Homo sapiens: one gene and its partners. The protein of the gene in region 1 interacts with the protein of each later gene in a biochemical or structural test. Each region holds a gene or a part of one and is shown on either strand. Other genes may lie near its edges.

Evidence for each region. Proteins that work in one complex are often made in the same cells at the same time.
Region 2: the proteins of DLG4 (region 1) and CTNND2 interact in a test that uses a peptide from one of them, tested with the Homo sapiens proteins (2 studies listed by IntAct, with this or other methods).
Region 3: the proteins of DLG4 (region 1) and SEMA4C form a complex in vitro, tested with the Homo sapiens proteins (2 studies listed by BioGRID and IntAct, with this or other methods).

The regions. Positions count from the first base shown.
Region 1 is NC_000017.11:7,200,504-7,208,439, reverse strand, and holds part of DLG4 (disks large homolog 4), read left to right. Parts: intron 1-200; coding exon 201-266; intron 267-1,168; exon of another isoform or gene 1,169-1,485; coding exon of another isoform or gene 1,486-1,509; intron 1,510-3,252; exon of another isoform or gene 3,253-3,494; intron 3,495-4,187; coding exon 4,188-4,241; intron 4,242-4,372; coding exon 4,373-4,432; intron 4,433-4,623; coding exon 4,624-4,748; intron 4,749-4,846; coding exon 4,847-5,016; intron 5,017-5,110; coding exon 5,111-5,247; intron 5,248-5,392; coding exon 5,393-5,537; intron 5,538-7,936. UniProt on the Homo sapiens protein: Postsynaptic scaffolding protein that plays a critical role in synaptogenesis and synaptic plasticity by providing a platform for the postsynaptic clustering of crucial synaptic proteins.
Region 2 is NC_000005.10:10,971,154-10,978,200, reverse strand, and holds the end of CTNND2 (catenin delta-2), read left to right. Parts: intron 1-4,487; coding exon 4,488-4,748; 3' UTR 4,749-6,365; downstream 6,366-7,047. UniProt on the Homo sapiens protein: Has a critical role in neuronal development, particularly in the formation and/or maintenance of dendritic spines and synapses. Involved in the regulation of Wnt signaling.
Region 3 is NC_000002.12:96,859,899-96,867,834, forward strand, and holds part of SEMA4C (semaphorin-4C precursor), read right to left. Parts: coding exon 7,880-7,936; intron 6,534-7,879; coding exon 6,385-6,533; intron 6,032-6,384; coding exon 5,969-6,031; intron 5,867-5,968; coding exon 5,768-5,866; intron 5,640-5,767; coding exon 5,543-5,639; intron 5,423-5,542; coding exon 5,306-5,422; intron 5,218-5,305; coding exon 5,066-5,217; intron 4,983-5,065; coding exon 4,807-4,982; intron 4,485-4,806; coding exon 4,340-4,484; intron 4,251-4,339; coding exon 4,028-4,250; intron 3,897-4,027; coding exon 3,784-3,896; intron 3,505-3,783; coding exon of another isoform or gene 3,460-3,504; exon of another isoform or gene 2,367-3,459; intron 1,997-2,366; coding exon 1,839-1,996; intron 1,752-1,838; coding exon 1,681-1,751; intron 1,558-1,680; coding exon 728-1,557; 3' UTR 1-727.

The sequences.
Region 1 (7,936 bases):
GGCCCTGGCGGGAGAGGGGGCTGTTGGGAGAGTGGAGAGAGGGGAGCCAATGGGCTAGAGGAGAGGGAGGGGGAGGAGCTGGTCAGGCCCCAGGGCCTTCCGCACTGCACTGGCTGGGGGAAGAGGCGGCGGCCAGGGCGGCCAGCCTGGAGCCTGAGGCACCGGGCTGGCCCCAGTGACACCTCCGTCCCCATCCCCAGAAATACCGCTACCAAGATGAAGACACGCCCCCTCTGGAGCACAGCCCGGCCCACCTCCCCAACCAGGTAAACGCCCCCGAGCTGGTGCACGTGGCGGAGAGGAACTTGTCCCACCTCGAGGCTGGCCACGGGGTCGTGGGCCACGCCCACCTCTCCCCCTTCAAGGTAGGAGACCCTGGTGGCCCCCTCCCCAGTGCGGCCCTCGGAGCCTCGGAGCTGCAGCAATCCCTAAGGGCCGGTAGGGTGAGAGAGAGCCGTGGGGAGGGGGATGCTGGGACTGGGGGCGGGGGTTTGGGGCTTGGGCTCCTGGGGTCTGGGGGAGGGGGCGTTTGTGGGGCTGGAAACACCTTGGTCCCACAGAGGAGAAACAGGCCAGGCCAATGGGAGTGGATGTAAAGCCTAAAGCAAGAATGTGTGTGTGCGCGCGTGCCTGTGCGCGTGTGCTGTGTGTGTGCCTGTGCGTGTGTGCATGCATGCGTGCCTGTGTGTGTGCTGTGTGTGTGTGTGCGTGCGTGCGCCGTTTGTGTGCCTGTGCGTGTGCTGTATGCGTGTGTGTTGAGGTGTGTGCATCCCCCAAGAGGCCCCCACGCCTGGGACCTCTTCATTCCTTCACACCCCCAACCTCCATTTCCATTTTCTGTGTCCAGAGCTCTGTTCCAAGCGCCTGCTGCCCTCATTTGCTCTTGTCCCTTCCCCGCCTCCTCCCCCTACCTCCGCCTCTGGGCCTGGCTCGCCCTGTCCCCAAGTCTCCAGCTCTTTCCATCTGTCTGGCCTGAGACTTCACATGGTGGGGCCTTGCTGCCTCGTCCCCTGCCCCAGCTTTGCTCCACTCCTGAGTTCTCTTCCCCCTCTGCAGCCTTTCCTCCCTGCTGGCTGGCTGGCTGGCTGGCTCTTGATGCTGTCTCTCTCTTCCTCCCACGCATTCTCCTCTCCCTCTCCCTGATCCCCAGCCCAGGCCGCTGGGGCCTGATCAGTCCTTTCCCTCATCAGTCCTCTCCCTCCATCAGCCAGCTCCCCTTTCCCATGTTCCCTCTTGCCTATTCATCTTCACCTTCCCTCTTTTCCTCCTCCCCTCTCTCATCCTCTTGGGTTCTCACCTCTGCCATATCTTCTTTCTATCCCCCTCTGCCCCCTCCATCATCCCCCACCACCTGTTTCCCTTTCTCCTCTCTGCTCACAGCGTCCTCCTCTCTCCAGTCCCGGGAGGCCTGGTTTCTGGGACCTTCCATTCTCCAGTCCACTTTCCATCTTCCCCTTCCTCCATCTCCTCTTCTGGGGACACAGGATGGGGAGGACTGGAGAGCACCAGGCAAGCTGTGAGATTGAGGGGACACTGTGGGGTCAGGGTGGGGATTCTAGGATGTTGTGGGATGCTCTGGGAAGGGGGAGGTTGCTGACATTTCACCAAGAAGATGGGGAGGAGGTCTCTGAGCCTAGGGAGCGGGCAAGCAGGTTCTGGAGTTAGAACTGGCAAGAGAGGAGTTGGGGGATAGGAAGGGTAAGAGGTCCTGGGTCAGGGGCCAGATAGGGATAAGACTGTGAGATCAGGGCAGTGAATGAGGCTGACAGAGCAAGGAAAGGAAGGCCCTGGAGACAGGGATGGTACAGAGTGTTTGTGCGAATTCTGTGGATGCTAGGAGTGAGGGAAAGAAGACTAGAGATGCTTTGTGCAAGGCAGGGCCATTAAATCCCTGAGCAGGGGGAAGAGGAGGTAGGGAGCCTGAGGGGTGGTAGTTAGTACAGAGCTGCTGCTGATCAGAGCTCAGGAGCAGAAGGGGGTGGAGGGAGAGAGTGTTGGAGGCCATAAGCATGGGGTGGAGGTCTCAGGACAAGGCCTCACCTGGGGAACAGGAGAAGCCCCAATTTTCAGAAGAGAGGGGAGTTGATTGAGAAGTGTAAGATTGTTACTTGAGAATAATCTTGAGGGTATGAAGGTAGGGTAAGGGAGAATGGTGATAAACTCTCTGGGGAATCAGAAATTGAGATGGAGTAGCTGGGTGGGGTGGCATGTGCCTGTAGCTACTCAGGAGGCTGAGGTGGGAGGACTGCTTGAGCCCAGGAGTTCAAGGCCGCAGTGAGCTATGATCACACCACTGCACTCCAGCCTGGGTGACACAGCGAGACCTTGTCTCTGGAAAAAAAGAAATTGGGATGGAGGATGAGGCCACATTGGTAAGGGATGGGGCTGGAGGGTGCGACAGGGCCAGGGAAGCGGATGGAGAATGGAGGCTGGGGTTGGAAGATGGATGTTGAAGGGCGAGACAGGGATGGAGATGGAGCATGTGGGATGCGGGCAGAGATAGGGATGGGAAGCAAATGAATGTCGTAGTGGATGAAGGTGGGTGTGCTGGGAAGGAGGTTCCAGGATAGGGATGGGGATGGGGATTGAGGATGGGCTATGGGATGGAGGACGGGCTATGGGATGGAGGACGGGCTGCGGGATGGGGGACGGGCTGCGGGATGGGGGACGGGCTGCGGGATGGGGGACGGGCTGCGGGATGGGGGACGGGCTGTGGGATGGGGGACGGGCTGTGGGATGGGGGATGAACACGTGGATGAGATTTTGGCAGTCAGTGACTGTTGGTTGGACAACAGCATTTGCTGATATGTGAAGGGTTGGAGGGTGGTGTTAATAGATTTATGGGTGTGAAATCTGTGATACAGCTTGAAAATGGTCGGTAGTTTGTAGGCTTGAGAAATAGCAGTAGGAGAGGGGAGGGACCCCTTTGGACGGGGAGAGCGGGAAGGAGACTGGGGAATCCTTGCGCTTGGGCGACTGCAAATACATGTTTCTTTAAGGAGGAAGTAGGTTGGGGACCCCGGAAGGAGGCTCTTGGCGGCCTCCCCCCATTGCCATAGAGACGTGGCTTCGGTTGCCCTGGCAATTGGGGAAGCCCCTAGGACCGGGCTAAAGCGGGCCCCGCCTGGGAGTCTAGAGACCAGGCGATTGACGTCAGGGACCTGGGCACGCCCCACTTTAACCCTTTCCCGAATGAAGTGGGGGGAGGGAGTAGATGAGCGGGATAGGACCCGGATGTCTTTCACCACTCCCAGTTCCTGACGTCCTTTGCACTGCGTAGGGTGAGGGGCGTAGGGGAGCGAGGAAGGCAGGTTATTCAGGATGCGCTGCGCCCACAAACCTCTTCAGCCCGGCCTCCTCTCGGCCTGGCTAACGTGGGGCGGGGCCCAGGGCAGGAGAGGCGGGGCTAGCGGATCCCTTCTGCGCTCAGGAGTTTGGTCGGCCCCAGGCCACGCCCCACCCCCCTGTTGTCCTGACGACAGGGCCTCCTGGAGGTGGGTCTCCCCGGGTCTTGACTGGTCCTAGATACCGTTGCTAGGCAACACGGTCCTTAGAGGAAGGGGTGGATTGGACGGCTGGTTGGTGAGACCGAGGGAGGGGCCTGCAGCTGGGGAACCCCGGATTCCCGGGGTGCAGGGTTTAGGGCAAATGTCTGTGAAAGTGAGGGGCAAGTCTAGGGGAGGGTTATGAAAATATCTGGGTAGATATGGGGGGTTGGGGGGATGGGGCAGGAAATGGGGACCAGGACCCGGTGGACATGATCCCTGGGGTGTCCATGTGTAGCACATAAGGCATGTAACACCCTGTGGTGTTACATCCGGTGAGAAGCTCCCTTCCCCCAAGCCTACCCCCCTCTCCCCACTCTTTGCCATCTGCTGCTCCCCTCTCCGTCTGGCTGTCTCCCTTCCCGCTTCTCCTACACCTCCTTCCACATGCAGGGGGCCCCGGGCTGGGCAGAGTTAGATCCTTGCGCGTGTGCATCTGTGCGTGTGTGTGCGCGTGCGCATGTGCACGCGTGTGCGTGTGTGTGATGTGGATTGAGGCTGGGCCCTTGAGCAGCTCTCAGGGTGGCGGAGTGGGCTTGGCTAAGAGGCTGAAAGGGTAGCCACGCTGATGGGACCCTCCGTTATGGGCTCCCTCTCGAGTCAAGGCTCAGGCTGCTTTTTGTCTCTTGTTTTCCCAAACAGGCCAATTCTCCCCCAGTGATTGTCAACACAGATACCCTAGAAGCCCCAGGATATGTGAGTTGTTTAGATTTTGGGGCTGGGGCCATTGCAGAAGGAAGGAGGGAGTAAGGGAGGGCAGCAGATGACGGGCAGGTGGTCAGACAGGAATGTCTGTCTCACTGCTTTTGTGTTTCTGTCCCGTGCTGGAGTTGCAGGTGAACGGGACCGAGGGGGAGATGGAATACGAGGAAATCACATTGGAAAGGGTGAGCAGGCTCCTCCATCGGCAGTCCCCGTGGCCTCCCGTCTGTACCTTTCTTTCTGCCATGTGGTCTGGGTGGCTAGCCCCTCACCCTGTGCCTTCCTCCTCTGGCTGCTCCAAGCCATTTCCCACCCCACTTGCCTTGCCAGACTTGGGCAGTGAGGGGAGCTGACCCTCTTCCCCTCCTTCACCCAGGGTAACTCAGGTCTGGGCTTCAGCATCGCAGGTGGCACTGACAACCCACACATCGGTGACGACCCATCCATTTTCATCACCAAGATCATTCCTGGTGGGGCTGCGGCCCAGGATGGCCGCCTCAGGTGGGGAGAGGAGACAGGGGTTAGGTTGCTTGGTCCCTGGAGAGGGAGGGCCAGGGCAGCAGGAAGCTCTTGGCTCAGGCCCACCTTGCTGCTCCCAGGGTCAACGACAGCATCCTGTTTGTAAATGAAGTGGACGTGCGCGAGGTGACCCACTCAGCGGCGGTGGAAGCCCTCAAAGAGGCAGGCTCCATCGTTCGCCTCTATGTCATGCGCCGGAAGCCCCCGGCTGAGAAGGTCATGGAGATCAAGCTCATCAAGGGGCCTAAAGGTAGTAACTCATTTTGTTCCCACCCCCATCCCAACTGTCCTGTGCCCCCAAGCCTGCTTCCTGGGCACCCACCTCTGGCCTCCCCTCCATCCAGGTCTTGGCTTCAGCATCGCAGGGGGCGTAGGGAACCAGCACATCCCAGGAGATAATAGCATCTATGTAACAAAGATCATCGAAGGGGGTGCTGCCCACAAGGATGGGAGGTTGCAGATTGGAGACAAGATCCTGGCGGTGAGGACTCCATCTAGCCCATTTTCTAGCCCAGATTTGGGTCTCACCTACTAGCCCTGGCAGGCCCAAGTTCATCACTTCACCCCAGTGCTTCTGTCTTGGGCCATTTGTGGCTTTGTCTGAGCTTTGCTTTCCTTGACTCCAGGTCAACAGTGTGGGGCTAGAGGACGTCATGCATGAAGATGCTGTGGCAGCCCTGAAGAACACGTATGATGTTGTCTACCTAAAGGTGGCCAAGCCCAGCAATGCCTACCTGAGTGACAGCTATGCTCCCCCAGACATCACAACCTGTGAGAGCCCTTCAAACACCAAAGTTCCCCATGACCCATCCCGTTTAACCCATGACATGCAGTCCCACGACATCCCTGTAGCTGTCCCTCTTCAGATATTCCCTATGAAATAGCCACAACCTCTGATCCTTGCTGTTGTTGGAGAAGAGATGGAAAATCAATTACCATAAAAGAACTAGAAAAGATCGTCAACGATCTCTCTCCTGGAAGGCACAAAGCCTGGTTGGTTTTATGGCTAATTTTGTGAAATTCTCAAGGAATAGATAATTCTTCTGCTCTTCCAGAGTACAGGAAAAGATAAAAGATTTCACATTTCATTTTATAAGGCCAGTTCGAATGGTCACAAGGATAGTGTAAAATAAGGAGAGTATAGACCCGTTTTGCTTCTGAATAGAGATACAAGAGTTTACAATAATATAGTAGCAAAGCAAACATGGCAGCATGTTAAGGGAATAACATAGGGTTTGTTTCAGAAAACTAAAGATGGCTCAATATTAGGAAATCTCTTAATATGATTCATATATTAAAACGTTACGGGAGGCTAAGTGTGGTGGCTCATGCTTGTAATCCCAGCACTTGGGAGGCCAAAGTGGGAGGATTTGAGACCAGCTAGGGATTTGAGACCAGCCTAGGCAACAAAGCGAGATCCTGTCTCTAAAAAAATTAAAAAAATTAGCACGTGCCTATACTCCTTGCTACTTGGGAGGCTGAGGCTGGAGGATCGCTTGAGCCGAGGAGTTGGAAGCTGCAGTAAGCCAATGATTGCGCCACTGCCCACCAGACTGGGTGACAGAGCGAGAGGAGAAAACGATGTGATTATCTTAAATAGACGTGAAAAAGGCATTTGGTGAAATTCACCATCTCTTTTGGATGAAAGCTTTTAGTAAACTAGGAACACAGAAATTTTCCTTAAGATGGTGAAGACTAGTTATCAGGAACCAGTAACAAACATTTTATAATGATACAATTTTAGCAGTGTGTCCATTAACTTATTTTTTAATTTAATTTTAATTTTTTTCTTGAAATGGAGTTTCGCTCTTCTTGCCCAGGCTGGAGTGCAGTGGTGTGATCTCAGCTGACTGCAACCTCTGCCTCCCAGGTTCAAGTGATTCTGCTGCCCCGGCCTCCCGAGTAGCTGGGATTACAGGTGCCCACCATCACGCCTGGCTAATTTTTGTAGTTTTAGTGGAGACAGGGTTTCACCATGTTGGCCAGGCTGGTCTCGAATGCCTGACCTCAGGTGATCTGCCCTCCTCGGCCTCCCAAAGTGCTGAGATTACAGGCGTGAGCCACCGCGCCCGGCCTCCGTTAACTTACAAAGAGGGCAGGGATGCCTCTTCCCACTGCTATTATTCTTCATTGCTTTAGAGCAGGGTTTCTCAGTGTTACTCCTGACATTTTTGGACCCAATAACTCTTCATTGTGGGGGGTTGTTCTGTGCCTTGTGGGATATTAAGCAGCATCCCTGGCCTCTGTCTATCAGATGACAATGGTACTCCTCCCCCTCAGTCATAACAATTAAAAAATGTTATGACAGAATTGCCCCAGCGAAATTATGGTGGTTGAGAATCACTGCTTTAGAGATTTCAGACAGTGTAACAAGACAAGGAGAATAGTTACATTTGGAAGGGAAAAACAAAAGTTATCTCTATTTGTAAATTATACTACTGTGCATCTAGATCAAAATCTAAGTGAATTAACTGGAAAAATATGCAAAGTTAAGAATGTGGCTATTTGTTGGCTGGGCGAGGTGGCTCATGCCTGTAATCCCAACACTTTGGGAGGCCAAGGCGGGCGGATCACCTGAGGTCAGGAGTTTGAGAACAGCCTGGCCAACATGGAGAAACGCTGTCTCTACTAAAAATACAAAAAAAAATTAGCTGGGTGTGGTGGCGAGCGCCTGTAATACCAGCTAATCCTGAGGCTGAGACAGGAGAATTCCTTGACCCTGGGAGGCGGAGCTTGCAGTGAGCCAAGATCTCACCACTGCACTCCAGCCTGGGCGATAGAGCGAGACTCCATCTCAAAAAAAAAAAAAAAAAAAAACCAAAACAGGCTGGGCGCGCCGGTGGCTCATGCCTGTAATCCCAGCACTTTGGGAGGCCGAGATGGGTGAGTCACCTGAGGTTGGGAGTTCGAGACCAGCCTAACCAACATGGAGAAACCCCATCTCTACTAAAAATACAAAATTAGCCGGGCATGGTGGTGCATGCCTGCAATCCCAGCTACTCAGGAGGCTGAGGCAGGAGAATTGCTTGAACCTGGGAGGCGGAGGTTGCGGCGAGCTGAGATCGCGCCATTGCACTCCAGCCTGGGCAACAAGAGTGAAACTCTGTCTCAAAAAACGACAAAAAAAAAAAGGAATGTGGCTATTTGTAAGATAAATAACAGGAATTAGT
Region 2 (7,047 bases), on another chromosome or scaffold:
CCCTGGGCCAAAAGTTACCCCAGAACTTTGCGCCTGGAACAGTTTCACCAGGAGGGATCCTCCAGGGTTTGGTCAGTTTCAGCATCGAAGCTTGTCCTCTGCTGAGCGCTCCTGTCTCCCGGGTGGCTCAGTCACCAGCCAGGTCTCACAGGCTTCACACTGGGTAGTGACTGAGCTTATGGGGAAGCAATTCATGGAGGGAAATCAGTTTCAAGTGGATCTCCAAGATAAGGCAAAAGACAGTGAGAGCTGAGAAAGAGACGCCTGCACCAGACACATGGCCACACGTGGGTGCTGCTCCTGTGACCTGGGACTCAGGCACATTTTCAGTGAACTCTGAGCTTAAAGCCTCCTAGAAGAAACAATCAGTAGTATAAAACACAGTTCGTGATCTTTGGTTTGAATGTCTGAGGTCAACGGGTTACAGACATCACTTTAAGACTTAACTGACTAGGTGCAGTGGCTAATGCCTGTAATCCTAGCATTTTGGGAGGCCGAGGCAGGCAGATCGCTTGAGCTCAGGAGTTCAAGACCAGCTTGGGCAACATAGCAAAACTGTGTGTCTACAAAAAATACAAAAATTAGCTGGGCATGGTGGTGTGTGCCTGTAGTCCCAGCTAGCTGGGATGCTGAGGCAGGAGGAAGGCTTGAACCTGGAAGGTGGAGGCTACAGTGAGCCATAATTGCACTACTGCACTCCAGCCTGAGTGACAAAGCGAGACCCTGTCTCAAAAAAAAAAAAAGACTTAACTATGCATACTTTCCAAACATCCTTTTGAGCTTCTACCAGTCCACCCCATAATTACAAAGAGAAATATCATGTTGAACGGTATCTATCTAGCTGACAACAGGATTTTTGTTCAGGAACTAGAAACAAAGAGCTTTGCTGTTTTGATGACCAATATTTAAATGATAACAAAACCGGAATCTTGAGTTCCTTCCTGGTGTCCTTAGTTCCACTGTCACGTGAGCAGGCCAGTTGTAATTGTCTGCAGAAATGAGGAAGATGAGATCCCAGGAGGATACGTGTTTCCTTCAGTCCCCCAGCCAGGAAGAGGCAAATACTCATCTTGGTTCTTCTGTCTTCCTGTCCCATTTTTTTTACCTCTGTGCCAATGGTTCTCAAATTGGAGCATGAGCCAGAATTCCCCAAAGGGCTGTTAAAGCACAGATTGCTGGGGCCCATCGCCAGAGGCCCTGATTCAGTAGGTCTGGAGTGGGACCCAGTAATCTGCATTTCTAACAAGTTCCCAGGTGATGCTGATGCTGCTGGTCTTGGGATTATGCTTTGAAGACCACTGATACTTCATATCTGGCCTCCTTCATTTTCTGTGAACACTCTGAGTCTTTCTATGAACACTCTGAGACATGGAAAAGTTGGAAGAGCTATACTGGGCTACTATTTCCCTTGTGTTCAAAATAAATCCAGTTTCCTGGCAAATTCATTAAGGAATAAACCCAAAGAAGTCTTTTGTCATTATGCTAACAGAGTTGGAAGGTGTCATGACACTATCCTTCATAATTTAGAGTGAATATTCTACTGTTGAGGAAAAAGTTCAGCAAAGATGACTTGGTAGAAACAGAAGCCATGGAACAGAGCGCAGAGAGCGTGAGCATATTGACCCTGGAGTGAGCTGCTGGTCACCACCCCTTTCCAAAACAAGATGCAGCGTTAAGGCAAAGAAGGCAAAAGCTTCGGGCTTGCGTATTCCTGGGCTTCTCTAGACCGTAACAGACACCCAGATTCAGAAATCCCCTCTGCTCTATTGGGGCATCATTCTACATCCCTCATCCAAATCTGGCTGATGCAAACTGTGCAATTTTTAATGCATTTATTTTTAGCTCTTATGTGAGGAGGGCTTTGGGAGGGGTCATTTCATCAGCCAGATTTTCAACTGTCAGATATTCCCTTAAAGTTTAAAATGCAGCCAATATTCCTCCACTGTGGATGTGTTTCACCAGCAAACGTCCATACCACAAGAGCAAATACCACAAGACGTCCATACCACAAGAGCAAATACCACAAGATACCACAAGAGCAAATACCACAGAAATGTCCATACCACAAGAGCAAATACCACAGTGAGCAAATTCTGTCTCTCCGGGTGCAGCAGTGACACGTGTCACCTGTGACAGTTCATTTGTACACACTTTTGGGACTGGGGCACCAAACCTCAGAAGTGATTGGTGTGGGATTTTATGAACAGTACAGATGAATGAAGAAGTTAATTCTCTGGGGTAAGAGGCTGAAAAAGCTGATACCCAGCTCCCAAATGTTCACCAACCAGAGAGAACATGACAACAGTCAAAGCAATTTGAACGAGGTTGTGCAAAAGAACCAAAAAAATGAAAGCAGAAGCCACTTTGGAGGAGAGCTATAACCCTTGTGAGTGACTCCTCCTGAAGATGTCCCTGTCCCCTGCACTGCCTTCCCTGGCCCCCAAAAATCCATAAGAAAACACACCGCTTCTTGGTCTCTTTTGTCCACCGACTTTCTTATCTTAGAGCCTAGAGTCAGCTCCTTGAGGCCTGTCCTCCAAGGTTTGGCCACCTTGGCTCTGATGGGACTGGACTACGTTGGTAGAACACCTGGGTTTTAGAGTCAGCCAGCCGTATGTTCCAGTTCCAGTTCACAACACCACTAGCTATGACGTTTTGGAGAAGTTTCTTAACTTCTCTGTGCTTCAGTTTTCTCATCTATAAGGTGGGAGTTTGCTTGAGGGATGGATGGATGGATGGATTGGTGGGTGGATAGGAAGACAGACAGATGATAGATTATAGATATTGATGTAGACAGACACAAACACACATAAATATTTATGACTACTGGAGTATTAAAGAATTTGCTAAATGTTGAATAGGGTGCCCTGCTGAACAAGAAACACAGCAAATCTAGTTCCCTCCCTGTATAATTTTTCCAAACTTCTAGATTCTGAGCCTTTGCATGTCTTGCACTTGGAAAACAGCCCTGTGTTGGAGTGGAGTTCAGCAGCACACAAGCAGAGCTCTTCAAAGAATAGCAAAGGGCACCCCAACCTAGCAACGCAGTCCAGTAGACCTGGACTTAGCAGTATTTAATTGCAGATGTTGCACATTCATTCCAAATGTTCCTCTCATCCTTTGTTAGCTCTCAGGCTAACAAAGGTTTATCCTCTATGGACTTTTGGACTTCTGTAGGTAGACAGAAACCTCATTCATTCAGCTACCACTAACTAGACACGTGGGACATCCTAGACAGCTGCTGTGATGAAGTTCACCACTTCTTTGAAGATCAGGTTGATTACTAGTATAAATCAATGACATATATAAGAGGGAGTTTCACTTACTTGAGAGAAGAATTATGTGTAAGCCTTTAAAAGCATTCATTTACACACAACGTGCTAATTACAAATCATTATCTATTAACTAAGACCAATTTCTAGAGAACGTTTCCGTGCTGAACTTTAGTTAAATTAATAGGGAGTCACTGAGTCCACCCAAAAGTGATCAAACAGTATTTCTTTAAGAGTGTTTAATAATTCACACCAGATCTCCTCCCCAATTACTGCACATTAGCAGAGCTTTGTGCATCCCGGTATGCACTTGCTGTAGGGTTAACCTCACCCTATACCTTGGGAGGTTCTGCTCATTTCAGGGGCAGGTGCTTGAAAAGGGACCCCAGGGACTAGAACAGATACAAATGCACCAATGTTTATTGCAACATTATTTACAGCAGCTAAAAGGTAAAAATAACCCAAGCGTCCATCAATGGATGAATGGATAAATAAAATGTGGTCTATGCATACCATGGACTATTTTATTCTTATATATATACAATCATGGGGGTGCAAGTGCAGTTTTGCTACATTGAGGTAAAGTCATGGCCTTCAGTGCATTCATCAGTGGAGCAATGCACATCATACAGTGGAATATTATTCAGCCACAAAAACGGATCAAGGTCTGCCATGTGCAACACCATGGATGGACCATGCAAACTTTATGCTAAGTGAAAGAAGCCAGTCACACAAGGACAAACACTCTCTGCAGTGCCTATATTAGGCAGATTTCTAGAGACAGAAAGTAGAATGGTGCTTGCCATGGGCTGAGAGAGAGGGGATGAGGAATTACATTTAATGGGCACAGAGTTTCTGTTTGGGATGATTTAAAAAGTGGTGGAAACGGATGGTGGTGATGGTTGCACAACACTGTGAATGTTCTTAATGCCACCTAATTAATCTTACACTTCAACATTTCTTAAAGCAAGCTGTTTTATGTTATGTATATTTTGCCATGATAAAGATTATGTAGAATGATAGCACGTGGACCTAGGATCCAATTTTCAAAAGGAAAGCCAATGACAGTTGGCAGTTTTGGAGAAGCAGGGCCACAGTGGTGAATGCCTGGATATACACAGCCTATTCTTTGAAGGAGAGTTGGGTGCCGGGGCAAGAGGCAGGCTGAGTCAAGGGAAACCAAGTAACCCAGTGTGGCTCTTCTTTCCCGTTTAGGTTTCAGCACAGCCAGTCCCACAGGAGCCCAGCAGAAAAGATTACGAGACCTACCAGCCATTTCAGAATTCCACAAGAAATTACGATGAGTCCTTCTTCGAGGACCAGGTCCACCATCGCCCTCCCGCCAGCGAGTACACCATGCACCTGGGTCTCAAGTCCACCGGCAACTACGTTGACTTCTACTCAGCTGCCCGTCCCTACAGTGAACTGAACTATGAAACGAGCCACTACCCGGCCTCCCCCGACTCCTGGGTGTGAGGAGCAGGGCACAGGCGCTCCGGGAACAGTGCATGTGCATGCATACCACAAGACATTTCTTTCTGTTTTGTTTTTTTCTCCTGCAAATTTAGTTTGTTAAAGCCTGTTCCATAGGAAGGCTGTGATAACCAGTAAGGAAATATTAAGAGCTATTTTAGAAAGCTAAATGAATCGCAAGTTAACTTGGAAATCAGTAGAAAGCTAAAGTGATCCTAAATATGACAGTGGGCAGCACCTTTCTAGCGTGAGCTGTAGAGTAACGAGAAGTGCTTTATACTGAACGTGGTTGATGGGAGGAGAGACGAGGCATTCGGGCCGGTGGGGCGTAAGGGTTATCGTTAAGCACAAGACACAGAATAGTTTACACACTGTGTGGGGGACGGCTTCTCACGCTTTGTTTACTCTCTTCATCCGTTGTGACTCTAGGCTTCAGGTTGCATTGGGGTTCCTCTGTACAGCAAGATGTTTCTTGCCTTTTGTTAATGCATTGTTGTAAAGTATTTGATGTACATTACAGATTAAAGAAGAAAAGCGCGTTGTGTATATTACACCAATGCCGCCGTGTTTCCTCATCTATGGTTCTAAATATTGCTTCAATTTCAAACTTTTGAAAGATGTATGGATTTCCAGTTTTTCTTTACTTTCTCCCAGTATGTTTTAACAAAAAAAAAAAAAAGCAGGAAAAAAGGAATATTTAGCAGTATTGTTCGTTCTGATATGTGAATTTGTTTGTGACAACTAAACAAGGCATTCAGCAGTTTCTGACAATTAACATACATCATTCCACACTCCTTGTCAACAAAGTGCTTTTTCACTGCCTAAAATTTTAGATGTAGATATTTGAAATAGATTTTTTCATTTATACCAGTTTTCTTTATGATGATACAGTGTTAAAAGAAAATAAATTACAATTGATCTGTCATCCATATTTGCTAAGAATGTCTATTTCCAAGAACCTATATCTTACAAAATACACATTCTTGCTTGTGTGTCTGTGTGTGTGGGTGTATGTATGTCCACGTACTAGAAAAATTACCTGTGTGAGATTTTATTTTGACAGAAGCTATTTCATTTGCTGTTCATCTTGTACAAACTTTGTTTTTGGTTTTTTAGTATAAATGTACATCAGTTTGTTCCTTTTGTACTGTATCTATTCTTCTGACCATCTAGTGACTCAGGATATTAGGCCAGTTGAAGTGGAGTTATAGGATTTTCACACATTCACGCATACTTGGATATCAACCCTCTCTACAGGTCCGTTTCCTTACACATTTTATCCCCTCAGAACACGATAAACCATGGCCAATTCAGTTTCACTTTGGGGCCAATTACTTGAAGTATCCACAGAAAATGTAAACTGCTCGCCTTATTCCCCCAAACTTTTTGTTCATGTGGCAGGGAGCAGTACACAACTATGGAATAGATTATTAAAACTGAACTTGAAGCTAACGTTAGAATAGTGGTTAACAGAGCTAAGAAATAAGGCTAACCATCGAAAAGAACATGGGCCGCGGGTAAACTAGCTTTGCTCTTTAGATGCAAGTGGCTGAGGCCAATAGGTGCCTAGTAAATGTTAACTGTTCTTGGAAAAAATAAAAACATCAGTAACAAAAGAAATTGGCTGCCATCGTCCTTTAAAACTGGCTTCCCTTCACGCTACATAGTTTAATTCAGCTCCAAGTCTCAAGTAAATGGTTCTTTCTCCAAATTTAACAACAATCAAATGATGATAGTCAATTCACGCATAGTTTTGGAAATGAAAAGTTAACTTTCAGAATAGAGCAGTAGACAGAAATGTATGTGTGAATTATGTACTAGTTGGACATACAGGACTCCACATTTCTGGATTCCCTCACAGGAATGCTTCAGACCCTCTAGAGAGAGAGAAACATGGCACATTGAAGACAGGGTTTCCACTTCATCTGTATCATACAATGCAACAGTAAAGAGAATGTGATATGGACATGACTTCCCTATAACATAAGGGCTGGCTTAACCTTTCCAGAAGAAAGCAATAGGACTCATTCTCTGGTTGGAGTTGTGCCACAGAATTAATGTGCTATGGAATTCCTCCTCCTAGTAGAAACCGTATATTTTCTTTATGATTTTTGAGTCTTAATGCATGCCCTACATTTGCGACTCATGAAGACCAAGGATGTCTTTGCATCCCATAATTCTTTGAGAGCACATTGTGCCAGGCTGTGATTAGCTGACTCAGCTAGGAGCCTCCAGCATCAGAAGGAGAGATAGTGGGAAAAATTTAAAAGTGTTTGTAATTATTCAAGCCAATCCATTTTTC
Region 3 (7,936 bases), on another chromosome or scaffold:
CCCTCACACAGCCTTTCCCAGCCCTGTACAGGAAGAAGGCAAGTATAAAATACCACTGAACCCCGGGGCCAAGTGGGAGGCCCCACCCACCCTTCCCCCCAAACACACAGGAGGCTCCATCTCCCTCCCCCCACCCTGAAAACATTCACAGCCCTAGGAGCAGGACTAGGCCCACCCCAAGCCCTGCACTCCCTCTGAAGGGGCACAGCACCCTGTCCACCCCACCTCCATATGTACATCGCTGCCCGACACTCGGGGCAGTGGGGGTAGGAGAGACAAAGTGATACGACCCCTTCCCCTTCATAGCTCCAATGACTCACCAGGAGGACCCAGGCCAAGGGAAGACTTGACAGAAACAGGAAGGCTATGCCACAAGCGCGCACGCGCGTGCACACACACATACACACACACACAAACACATGTGCAAATACAGACAAACACACATCTTGAAACTTCTGCCTTGAAAAGTTTTGGCGGCTGGGGTCCCGCGTGTCTGTGATTCACAGAGAGGAGGAAGATGCCTTCTGCGAGGCTGGTGCCCTGGTGAGCCACACCAAGTGGCAGTGCCCGTGCTGAGCAGAGCAGGTCCTCATGGCCGGGTGGGTGCTGGGCAGTATCTGTCCCAGACAGAGCAGGTGCCCGTGCCATGTCCCTGAGGTAGCTGGTGCCTGTGCAAAAGTAGGAGCTACACCTCCCACGCTTCCCGCCGACGCGGTGGGGGTTCCCCTCATACTGATGACTCCTCGGGGTTGGAGTCGGGCAGTGGCTGGCGTTGCTGCAGTTTGCGTCTCAGTTCATCCGCGAGCTCAGGCAGGGGGTGCCCGAGCCCTCCCCGGTCCTCCCCTCCTAGTTGTAAGCGCACGTAACCATTGGCATTTGAGTTCCGCCCACCCCCCAGGTGAAGCCGAGTTGGAGAAGGCAGAGGCTGGCCTGGGATGCCTGGAGGTGGCGAAGGGGGCCCCCCACCGGGCTGGCACCGGGCATGCCCAGGTACTATCTTAAGGGAGCCATCTGAATAGTAGTAACCGACAGGATCCCAAAGTTTCTCATCTGGTTCAGGACAGGGCCGGAAGGGGGGACTGGTGGGCTCCTTGGGCAGCTCCAGGGGGTACACCAAGGTCCTCTCAGTAGCCTTGGCCCCTTTCTCCAGCTCTTCCCGCAGCCGCCGGCGCAATGACAGCACCAGCAGCAGCAGCACCAGGCACACAGCCCCCAGGGCCACCACCGCCAGCCACACCAGCCCCAGGTTTTCCAGGGGGGCCCGGGCCTCCAAGGTCACCGACGGGCCTGCCACGACAGCCACAAGGTAGCCTTCAGCAGCCAGCCGCGCCCCCTGCTCCTCTGAAAAGCAGTGGTAGGCCCCGGCATGGCGGGGCTGGGCAGCCATCACAACCAGGGCCTGGAGCCGGGCATCGTAGAGGAAGGACCCGGGCTGTTCCGCAGGCAGGTCCCGGCCCCCAAAGGTCCAGCGGGCATGGGCCAAGTTGGAGGAGAGGTGGCAGGGCAGCACCAGGTCTGTGCCCGCCACCACCGTGATGTTTTTGGGAGTGGGCCTGACTGTAGTGGCAGAGAAAACAGAGTGCATGTTAGTGCAGGAAAGCAGGGCTGGGGAAGAGGAGAACAGAAACTCCAGCTCTGGTCCAGGGCTCAGCCCGATGCGACGGGAATGAAAAAGCTCACCTTTCTTACTGCCACGGAGGTTGCAGATGCCTGAAGTGTCCGAGGTCATCACATGCTGGATCAGTAGAGATCTGGTAGGGGATGTAGGGTACATCAGCAGCCTGGCTCCAACCACCCTGAGTCCCTGGAGGTCCTGGCCTATGTAGAGCCCAACTCACCCAGAGTGGCCACCCACGGCCACACAGCGGCTGGTGTTGACGCTCCAGGCGCAATAGGGGTCCCGGGCGAGGACACAGTCTGCACAGGAGCGATACTTCATGCAGTCGGCCACGGGCAGCTGCACCAGCTGAGAGCGGGAGCCGGCAAAGAGCAGCTTCTGCGAGAAAAGCGGGGCGCAGGAGGGGGGTCGGCCAGGGCCACACCACGGGAGGGGCGGCCGGACCAGAACGCAGCATGGGGACAGCTTGGACTCCTGCAGGGGGCACAGCACGGGGCGCCAGAAGGAGGAACAAGGGAACAAGGCAGAGCTATAGTGCTGAAAAGGGAACTCTAAGAACCGCAGAACTCAGAGGGCTTACACAGGCCAGATGCAATCCTAAGCCCCTTATCGACGTGACGTTATTAGAAAGGGATGATGGGGCTGTGAGGCCAAAAAGTATAATCACACACACTCACACACACATAGTGCAGGAAATACATTTCAAGGCCCATCAGCCCTCACAACAGCAGCAGCATAACATAAGATGTTTTCCTGTTTCAACGGTGGATGCCAATCTGTGTGTTTATTCAACCACACACTTTCTTTCTGCCATTATTCCATGTTCTAGGGGACAATTTTGAGTCATAATAGCTGGTAAAAGGCAAACAAATCAAAGTTCAGGAGGTGTAGCAAACATGCCACAAGAGTATTGCACAAGGCAACTAGGAACAGCAGGTCATGCCTGGAATCCCAGCACTTTGGGAGGCTGAGGTGGGCAAATCACTTGAGGTTAGGAGTTCAAGACCAGCCTGGCCAACATGGTAAAACCTTGTCTCTACTAAAAATACAAAAATTAGCCGGCTGGCCAGGCGCAGTGGCTCACGCCTGTAATCCCAGCACTTTGGGAGGCTGAGTCGGGCGGATCGCAAGGTCAGGAGATCGAGACCATCCTGGCTAACACGGTGAAACCCCGTCTCTACTAAAAATACAAAAAATTAGCCAGGCGTGGTGATGGGAGCCTGTAGTCCCAGCTACATGGAAGGCTGAGGCAGGAGAATGGTGTGAACCTGGGAGGCAGAGCTTGCAGTGAGCCGAGATTGCGCCACTGCACTCCAGCCTGGGTGACAGAGCGAGACTCCATCTCAAAAAAAAAAAAAAAAAAAAAAATTAGCTGGGCATGGTGGCACGTGCCTGTAGTCCCAGTTACTTGGGAGGCCGAGGCAGAATTGCTTGAACCCGGGAGGTGGAGGTTGCAGTGAGCAGAGATCATGCCACCGCACTCCAGCCTGGGCGACAGAGTGAGACTCCATCTCAAAGAAAACAAAAACAAAAACAAAAAACCTTTAGCTGGGCATAGTGGCAGGCACCTGTAATCCCAGCTACTCAGGAGGCTGAGGCATAAGAATAGCTTCAACCTGGGAGGTGGAGGTTGCAGTGAGCTGAGATCGCGTCACTGCACTCTAGCCTGGGTGACAGAGTGAGACTCCATCTCAAAAAAAAACCAAAAAGAGTATTGCACAAGGGTATAATGCAAGCACTTCAGGGAAACAGTCACGGAAATGGGGGCTGGAAGGAAAACCACCATGGTGAGGGCATCATAAACATCTCACAGCCTGGGAGGTCTGGTCACAGGGGCATGGTCAGGGAAGAGGCCAGAGCCAGAACCACAGCACAGCTTGGAGGGTCTGAAAGAAACATGGGAGCAGTTGCCAAGGCTTGATGCTGGGAGCGCAGCCCCGTGACCTGGCTATATATAATGGCCCTGTGCAGTGCAGATTCCATTCTGTTTTCATTCTCGTTTCCAGGAACCCACCCCAAGTTAGGCAAGGTGTGCATCCACATGTGTGTGTGTTCCTAACTCTGCACTGGCCAAGCACATAGGCCCAACTGGGAGAAGCAGCCAGATGGAGAGAGTGAGATGGGATAGTGCTGGGGACAGTGGCAGATAGGGCCCAACTTACTACCTTGCTCTGAGATAGCACCAGGCTTCTCATGGGCTCCTGGTCAAACAGCTGCAGCTCCTCAATCAGGTGAACCCAGGGCCCCAGGCTCACAGCCTTGAGCAGCCAGCCGTCTCCTGGGGGGTGCAGAGGAGAAGGTGTAAATGAGAGGGCACAAGGCCGTGGGGCAGCTCCAAATCTCCCTGCCCTGGGCACACGGGCTTCTGCCCAGCCTTGAGCAGCCATGCCTGCATACCCATGCACCCACCTGTGCCAATGAACAGCACTGTATAGGTGGCTCCATCAAGTCCTGTAACCCGGTCGGCCACCAGGTGGGTGAAGTTGGTGCCCTTCTTCACGAGCAGGGGGCGGCTCCACCGAGGCCCCACCTGCTCCTCCATCAGCGGGTGCTTCTTGACGAAGTTGAGGATGTTGTCGGGTAGCTCCAGGGAGCTGGTGTAGCCGTGGCGCCGATGCCAGTTGTTAATGCACTGGGGGCAGGGTGTGGGGGGCAGGCCATCAGCAGGGTGGGATGGCACCGCAGCTGGGTGGGGAGATGCATCCCTGCCCTAGCACTCACCGAGCCAGGCCGAGGGCTGGGTACAGGGTCAGTGTAGCGGTCCCACTTCTGGGCTTCCTCATGGTACTCCTTATAGGGGCCCTCAAACACCCGCTGGATCTCTTCCAACTGGTACTCACAGATGGCCGACAGGTACATGTCACCCCTGTCACAGCGAGAGGGAGCCCAGGGTCAGGTACCCACCTTATCTCTTCCCACCCCAGCTAAGGGCAAGCAGCAGGAAGGCAGGGCCTGGCACAAACTGGCCATGGGTACCAGAATGCCCTGGCAGCTCAAGTGCCACCTGGCATGGGGCCCTGCCCCTTCACAGGCAGCTCTGAAAGGGGCAGGTGCCAGCATTCTCCTTGGCTTCTGGACACCTGGCTTCCGGGACTGCCTCTGAGGCCTGGTCCAGGCTCCCACCCATGCACCGTCCCTGACCTGAACCCCAGCTCCTCCCCACTCTGTGGGAGCCCTGGCCAACTCACCACTGTGCTTGAAAAACCCCAAAGAAGGTGGTGTTGTGCCAGGAGGTGTCCTGCAGGGTGTGCATCGCCTGCAGCTGGTTGAAGTAGAGCTGCCAGTTCGGGGCAGAGCATGCCAGCCGCGCCTTCAGGAACGTGGTCCACTTCCTCTGCAGGGTCCGTGCGCCCCCCATATCGCCCTGGCAGACGGCAAGGGGACACTGCCGGTCAGCCCCGCTGGGCCAGCAGGGCTCCCAGGGCCCACCGCTGTGAGACTCGGTACCTTGCAGACACGGGCCACACGAGCCACCACCTGCTCGGCATAGCAGTCGGACTCCACTGCCCGCTCCCTGAAGAAGAAGTAGACCTTGTCGTCGTCCCCCGTGAAGCTGCCCACACTCTCAGGTACATAGGCAGAGCCTACAAAGTGAGGTTCTGTGGGAAGGGGAGGAGGTCAGCAGGGAGGGGCTGGGCCCCGGGGGACCTCCCACCCATGGCTCCCACAGGCCCCCCGGTGGCTCACCGTTGAGCCAAAAGGCCAGGTACTCTGTCTTCATGGAGTGGTGGGGCCCCATGTTACGCAGGATAATGGGTTCCGTGCCCAGGAAGTTGTTGAGTGTGGCCGAGTACAGCTCACCATCTATGGGAGACAGAGGTCAGCTAGGCCACACATGAGGTATGGACACATCCGGCCAACACAGACCCAAGTGGAACCAAGCCCCAAGGACTCACCCAGCCTGCATGGGGGGCAGCCACTCACCCACAAGAAGGCCAGCATGGCCCTTAGCTGGGTCATAGGGACACTTGCCCTTCCCATCTTCAAACTCTCCATGCTCCAAAGTGAAGGTGAGCATGTTCTAAGGACAGAGAGAGAGGTGATGAGGAGATGCTTAAGGGCAGGGCTCTGTGGGCCACATCCACGAGTCCAGAGAAGGGTGAGGAGGGCGGGGGGCTGGGGACACCGAGGTAGGAGGGCAGCACTCACGACGTAGGTGCACTTGGGCTGGAAGGCGTAGGTGCCACAGACGTACAGGTGGGAGGCATTGTAGGGCTGCAGGAAGCGGATGAAGTTGAAGCACTCGGTCTGGGGGCAGAAAGGTGTCCGGTTAGTGAGAGCGCGAGGGCCAGAATGGGAGGAGACGTCCTGGGGTGAAGGCAGCACCAGGAGCAGCGTCCAAGCACCCACCTGGTTGTTCTTCCCTTTCTGGATACACTCAGTCTTCTTCTCCACGGGGGCCTCCCAGGAGATCTGGGGAAAGGGAAGGGGATGTCAGCCACGTTACAGGTACGGACTGAGCACGTGTCACAAGCACAGCCTGCAGCAGCAACACAGGGACGCCCAGTGCAGAGGCATGGTCCCTATTCTCTGGGGACTTCCTTTAGTACAGAATGGAAGCCCCAAACCACCCCACTACACAGAATTCAGTAAGTGCCAGAGAGGAGAGGAATGCCGCATGCTGACCCCAACCAGAGGGCAGGCCCCGGATGCCCAGCAGCACTTCTGTGGGGGCAGCCAGGCTGAGGGACCACCTAGCCAAGCACAGCCCCTCTGGGCCTTGCCCTCTGGCAGGCCCGACTGCCTCCCACTGCCCCACCTCTCACCGCTCCTTGCAGCTCCAGGGCCTCCATGCTGAAGGCAAACAGGGCCTCTCGGGCGCCCACGTACAGAAGCCCAGTGGGCTCCGTCAGCGTCAGTGTCAGGAAGTCCTGGATGCCGGTCTGGGAGAACCGCCGTACTACCGTGGCCAGCTCTGCAGGGGTAAGCATGGCTGCTGATGGGCAGGACCCCTGGGGCTCGACAGCCCTCAGTCTTGCTCCACGAGAGCCAGCACCCCATGCCACAAGCAGATGCCAGCCAAACCCCCTGATTGGCAATAAAGGACACTTTTGAAACAGCCTTTGGCCCTGACAGCCCCACCTGGGCCTCCCTAGCCTTTCCCAGCCTGGGAGGAGGCAAATCCAGGCTGCTGGGAGGAAGGAAGGATATCTCAGCCACAGCTTCCGGCCAGAGGAAGCCATCAGACTGATGGCTCTTGCTCTCAGGGTCAATGGCACCTCCGGCCGCAGGGCTGGGCACCCCCACCCCACCTTCGCTTCCTCGGCGGCTGCTTCCTTCTTTGCCCTGCTGCCCACTGCCTCTATCAGAGTCCAGCAGAGCAGGAGGCACAGACGGCTATGAGTACTCCCTGCCTCAGGAAACCCTTCACTCCAGCAGGACCCCAATCCAGGCTGCCAGAGATGCGAGCACAGCAGGCCACTAGGACAGGTGGGGATGGCAGGAGGGGAGCTGGGCTGTGAGCCAGGCCAGGGAGGTCCGGAGAAACCAGAGGCTCAGAGAGCGGAGATGGGGCTGGGGCCTGGGAAGTCTTGCTGCCACCCGGCATGCAGGGCACTACGACATTTATACAGTCACGTGATTCCTACATCAGCTGCCAAATATGGCTGCCGACCTGTCCTCAGGGTCCCCCCAAACCAGCCTTAGTCTTTGCAGGCAACAATGGATCCAGACACAGACCGGCATGGCAGGGCTTCACTGGCACCCGAGTGGAGCCTGTGGGAGGTGAGCTCATCCCAGGTCCCCAGAGCGCACGGCTGATACAAACACCTGACATCACCTTTCACACGGGTGTGTGCACAGGGAGCACTGCTGGGTCCCCGCTGTGCCCCGGCAACCATGCGAGCATGTGCACATACACACACACTTCCAGGGCCACCAGAGTGTATGATGTGTACAGGGCAGTAGGAGGTCTTAGGGGGGCCTGGGGAGCCAGGGGAGAGAGCCTCCAGTTTATATTTATCCCGGTTCCAGTTTCTCTTTAGGCTCCCAGCGCCAGTGACAATTCAAGAAGCGAGGCGTGGAGAGGGCGAGGCAGAAGGCTCTCCCCCTCCCACACCTGGGCAGGCAGTCTGGGGTGGGGAGTTGGACAGAGCTCCCCCAGAGGAGGCTAATCCCAGGTCCCAACCCACACTGCCCGTTCTTCCAACTCGAGTTTCTTAGAAAGCTGTGCCACACACGTGAGAATAAAGCCAGCACACTATGGGGGCAACTCCTCAGCAGCCTGTCCCTGACTTCCTCCTCACCCCTCCAGGCACTCACCCCCAGAAGACACTGTCTTACGCGGCACAAGGTTCCACCACACCTCAGCCCCAATGC